2 separate regions of the Homo sapiens genome follow, and region 1 is linked to region 2. Evidence: fine-mapped expression QTL. A gene starts in region 2. The other region holds a variant in brackets. All regions are shown on one strand. Distances are from middle to middle. Region 1 overlaps SART1 (spliceosome associated factor 1, recruiter of U4/U6.U5 tri-snRNP). Region 2 holds the start of EIF1AD (eukaryotic translation initiation factor 1A domain containing).

The links. PIP is the estimated chance that this variant, and not a neighbour inherited with it, causes the effect. A credible set is the group of variants that fine-mapping cannot tell apart.
Region 1: its variant is the best candidate, but not a certain one, in a credible set for the expression of EIF1AD in esophagus mucosa (GTEx, PIP 0.85).

The regions. Positions count from the first base shown.
Region 1 is chr11:65,968,933-65,971,950 of GRCh38, reverse strand. All of the region lies in intron 12 of SART1 (spliceosome associated factor 1, recruiter of U4/U6.U5 tri-snRNP), which reads right to left. Among named protein-coding and RNA genes, the nearest start is that of SART1, 8.7 kb to the right of the region's middle. The variant AC/C (reference allele first, on the strand shown) is at 1,326.
Region 2 is chr11:66,000,630-66,003,129 of GRCh38, reverse strand. EIF1AD (eukaryotic translation initiation factor 1A domain containing) reads left to right here and starts at 973. Exons shown (of 6, transcript NM_001242481.2): 1 at 973-1,220. BANF1 (barrier to autointegration nuclear assembly factor 1) reads right to left here and starts at 627. Exons shown (of 3, transcript NM_003860.4): 1 at 560-627. RefSeq lists a silencer at 266-605 and enhancers at 906-1,275, 2,377-2,500.

The DNA.
Region 1 (3,018 bases), 31 kb after region 2:
CACTATCACAAAACAAAACAACCCCTCAATTCCAAGGATCCTTTCTGTTCTCTCCAGCCTTTCTTTCTAGCTCATTGACTGTATTAACTTCAATCCAGTAATTCTTCAACCACATCACGACTCCAGGCCCTGTCCTCACACCCATCATTCTCTGTTATGTCCCTCATTACCCAGTTTAGACTCAGGGGGAAATCAACAGAACCTCTCCTTTGTGAAACCCTTAACTGCCTTGTCCCTCCTCCCTAGAAAACCCAATCCTCAATCCCACCATCCACTGCTTCAGGGCATTAATCCCACCATCCCCCTCCTCAGCTCCTGAATCCCACCATCCCCCTCCTCAGCAGCTCCTGAATCCCACCATCCCCCTCTTCAGCAGCTCATGAATCCCACCATCCCCCTCCTCAGCTCATGAATCCCACCATCCCCCTCCTCAGCTCATGAATCCCACCATCCCCCTCCTCAGCTCATGAATCCCACCATCCCCCTCCTCAGCAGCTCATGAATCCCACCATCCCCCTCCTCAGCAGCTCATGAATCCCACCATCCCCCTCCTCAGCAGCTCATGAATCCCACCATCCCCCTCCTCAGCTCATGAATCCCACCATCCCCCTCCTCAGCAGCTCCTGAATCCCACCATCCCCCTCCTCAGCAGCTCATGAATCCCACCATCCCCCTCCTCAGCTCATGAATCCCACCATCCCCCTCCTCAGCTCATGAATCCCACCATCCCCCTCCTCAGCAGCTCATGAATCCCACCATCCCCCTCCTCAGCTTCTGAATCCCACCATCCCCCTCCTCAGCAGCTCATGAATCCCATCCCCCTCCTCAGCAGCTCATGAATCCCACCATCCCCCTCCTCAGCTCATGAATCCCACCATCCCCCTCCTCAGCTCCTGAATCCCACCACCCCCCTCCTCAGCACCTCATGAATCCCACCATCCCCCTCCTCAGCAGCTCATGAATCCCACCATCCCCCTCCTCAGCTCATGAATCCCACCATCCCCCTCCTCAGCTCATGAATCCCACCATCCCCCTCCTCAGCTCCTGAATCCCACCATCCCCCTCCTCAGCAGCTCATGAATCCCACCATCCCCCTCCTCAGCTCATGAATCCCACCATCCCCCTCCTCAGCTCATGAATCCCACCATCCCCCTCCCTCAGCAGCTCATGAATTCCACCATCCCCCTCCTCAGCTCATGAATCCCACCATCCACACTGCCACTGGCAGGCCTGCTCTTCTCCCAGGGTGTATCTGCTCTCCACTCTCCAGAACAGCATCTCCCATCTCTTTGCACCACCACCTCTGCCACCTCTTCACTGGAAAA[AC/C]ACCAGAACAATCGGCCATGGGCTGCCTTGACTTCCCCTAAACAAGGTCACCCACAGCTGCTGTGCCCTCCCCACCTTCCCTCCTGAAATAAATGATGACACGAGCTGGCTTCACTCAAGCCCACCCTCCACTTGCACTCTAGGCCCCAGCACCGCCTGCCGAGATCTTTTTCTTCTTCCGTCATAAATGTGTCTCCCACATACTCTAGAATCTCCGGTAGTCAGAAAAGGCTCCTTTGCGGGTGGGAAACTTGATTGGATGCTGCTTACAACAAAAAACTAAAAAGACATTTTGGGGGATAACTGGAAAATGTTGGCATGCGAGCTGCTGTTTTACAGCATTTATGGGCTTGTTAGGGCAGTGTGGCTATGCGGGAGAAGGCCCTGATTTCGCCAGATGCCTACTGAAGTCGTTAAGGATGCAGTGTCATGATATCTGCAACTCCCAGTGGTCAGGAAAAAAAGAAGAGAAAGAAAAGAACTGTAACAATGTTTATAATTACTGACTCTAGAGGACAAAGGTGTTCACTGTGATAGGCTTTCCACTTTTTTGCCTGCACAGTGTGTGGGGTGTGGCTCATATGTTTAAAAAACCTTCTAGGTGGCCGGGTGTGGTGGTTCATGCCTCTAATTCCAGCACTTTGGGAGGCTGAGGAGGGTGGATCACAAGGTGAGGAGTTTGAGACCAGCCTGACCAACACGGTGAAACCCTGTTTCTTCTAAAAAATACAAAAATCAGCTGGGCGTGGTGGCATGCACCTGTAGTTCCAGCTACTCAGGAGGCTGAGGCAGGAGAATTGCTTGAGCCCGGGACATGGAGGTTGCAGTGAGCCGAGATCGCGCCACTGCACTCCAGCCTGGTGACAGAGCGAGACTCCGTCTCAAACAACAACAAAAACTTTCTAGGCTACACCAGGCCTGGTGGCTCATGCCTGTAACCCCAGCACTTTGGGAGGTGGAGGCGAGAGGATCGTTTGAGCTCAGGAATTTGAGACCAGCCCGGGCAACACACTGAGACCCACAGGCGCACGCCTGTAGTCTCAGCTACTTGAGAGCCTGAGGCAGGAGGATCCCTTGAGCCCAGGAGTTCAAGGCTGCAGTGAACTATGATTGCACTACTGCACTCCAGCCTGGGCAACCGAGCGAGACCTTGTTTCTTAAAACAACAACAAAAACAACCTCCTAGGTGAGTCTAATGTGCAGGCAGGCTGAGATCCACGGGGCTAGAAACCCTTATGTTCATTTCAGTCATAAAACAGCCCTGTCAGCCTATTGCTCCATTTCTCTGTTCCTTTTTAGCCGGGCAAACTATGTCCCAACACCTGTTCTTAGAAATAAAGTATTACTGGAACCCAGCCACGCCCACTCACTTACAGACTGTCTTGGCTGTTTTCCCTATAACAGCACAGCATTCAAGGTGCCTAACAGAGACCATATGCCCTTAAACCTCAAATACGTCCTCTCCAGCCCTTCAACAGTAAGCCTGGCCTCCGTCCCGGGTTCAGCCCTCACTTTTTCAACTCCCCTGTCCTCCGGGTCCTGAATCCACTGCAACTGTCCCCACTTTGCCTCCCAGTAGTATCAGAAGCTTCCCTCCCTTGCTCCCTCTCCTGGACACGCTTTCTTGGCTTCTTCCTAGGTGAGAAGTGTGGGGTAGGGCTAAAAGTGTGGCCTCTGGAATGATGGAGATGA
Region 2 (2,500 bases):
CTTGCTCGATCCCCCTCATCCTGAAAGGAGAAAACAGTTCCAGGGAGACTCTTCCCTACTATTTTTAAGAGGAGTTTCTTCCTGCAGGACCTGGATTTTGATCTTGCCCCAGAGGAAAAACGATCCTGCCTAACAGGTGGCGCAAGCGGGGCAGTGGAAAGATGCCCAGAGTCCGTAGCCAGGGCTGCGCGGAAGCTATCACTCCCTCTGTGACCTTGGCTGAACCAAGACGACACTGCCTGCCTGGAACGGCCACTTGGCGTGGAAAGCTAACCAAAGGGTCTCTCTACCTACAGGGCGAAGCGCACACCTAGCGCTGCGCACACCCGCTCCCCGCCCGCGGGGTTCACGCCGCGCCCCAGCTCCGCCCCCACCGCGCGCCGCTGCGGCCCGCCCCTTCCCGCGGCCCGGCTCCCACGCGCTGCACCCCGCCCCCTCCCCGCAGCGCGGCCAAGCTCTCCCCCAGGGCCCGCCACAGCGCCTGCGACCCCTCTCCTCCCCTTCTCCCCGCAACCCCTCTGGCCTCCAATCAGGGCCCTGCTCCGCGGCTGGCGCTCACCCGCAACTTCAGTTCCCGTAACGGTTCCTCCCGCCACCCGGCCGCTCCTGCGGATACCTCAAGCCACTAGAACTTTCTTCCACTTCCGCTTCCGGGTCGCTTCAAGAGCCGCCTTTAAAAAAGAAACATTCCACGTTGGGCACTTCTAGCCAGTTAGAGCTATAGAGTTGAGGCGCCCCGGACCTCGACGGCGTCCTTAGTAGGCGCTCCTTTCCGGTCCTTCGCGGGAAGCCCTGCCTTCTAAGGTCTCGCTTCTCGCGCAGTTCTGAGGGAGATAGGCCTCCAGGGAGAGGACTTCCTTTCTCTGCTGCCCGGACCCGGAACTCAAGGACTTAGGCTTGACGGACCTGGCGTGGGGAAGAGTTAGAAGACGGACAAGGGAGGGGACGGGAGGCCTCCGAGACAGCGCCGGAAGTACGGTTTTCGGAGGGATCAGACTCAGACTCACGTCGCACTCCTCGCAGTTGGACTGGTGGGAACTGGGAACACTGGAGACCTGATTTCTAACTGACGCTACCGTCGCGGCCGCCGGCAAGTTCCTTTACTGTGTTTTCTTGGTTCAGCCTTGAAGTGAGTCGTGGACGATCCTCTCTCAGCGTCCAGCCTAGACGGCGGTGTTGCTCCGGCAGCGTTCCTGGGAGCCGAGGGCCAGAGACTAAGTGTGGGTGTTTCTCTGAGGGTCTTTTCTCCGGGATAGACAGGGAGGAGGAAGGAGGACAGCAACTAGAGACGACAGTGTTTCTTTCGGAAACCATCAGTCTTAAGGGTACTGGCCTTCGTCTTCTAAGTACGCAAGTCAGAAATATGCAAATGTCGCAGACAAGCCTGCTCACCTCAACCTTTAATTAACTAGTTCCTGGCTTGAACCATCACGGTGGCCACCTAGTTTGTCTCCGGCTGTAGTGTGTTGCCAGACTGAACTTCTCTGTTGTGTGACTATGCTAGACTTGGGGTGTACAAGCGTGTTGAGAAAGATACGGTTTATTTCAAACTCCTTCCAGAGAGGTTGCCAGGATGACTTCTCTGGAGCATGCGTATAGTTTTATATTACACTAGTACTTAAGATTATAGGAGTTACTTTTTTTTTTTTTTTTTTTTTGAGACGGAGTCTTGCTCTGTCGCCCAGGCTGGAGTGCAGTGGCGCGATCTCGGCTCACTGCAAGCTCCGCCTCCCGGGTTCACGCCATTCTCCTGCCTCAGCCTCCCGGGTAGCTGGGACTACAGGCGCTCGTCATCACGCCCGGCTAATTTTTTGTATTTTTGTAGAGAGAGGGTTTCACCGTATTAGCCAGGATGGTCTCGATCTCCTGACATCGTGATCCGCCCACCTCGGCCTCCCAAAGTGCTGGGATTACAGGCGTGAGCCACCGCGCCCGGCCGGAGTTACTTTTACATGACATGCATTGTATTGTCCCATTCTGTTGTAGCAGGACGAGTCGCAGACAGAACTCCTCAGACACCAGATTAAAGAAGGAAGAGGTTTTTTTATTCGGCCGGGAGCGTCGGCAGACTCGTGTCTTAAGAGCCGAGCTCCCCGAAAAAGAAATTCCTAGCCCTTTTAAGGGCTTACAACTCTAAGGGGTCTACGTGAAAAAGTCATAATAGATCAAGTAAGCGTGAGAAACGTGACTGGGGGCTACATACATCAGCTAACAGAACAAAAAGTTTTACAGTGCTTTCTCATACAATGTCTAGAATTTACAGATAACACCAGTAGTTTTGGTCAGGGGTTAATAATATTATTATTATTTTAGCCACCAGGGCCAGGTGGTGGTGCCAAGGTCGTCTAGCTATTTATCTTACTTCTGTTTCTTTCCAACTTTTTGCTTTCTCCCTTTTCTCCTGTCTTATAAACTAGGGAAAAGGGGAGGTTGGAGAGAAACTAAGAAGGCCAACAGGAGAAGTGGTGGCCTCATACCATACTGTAACAGTGCTGAGTTA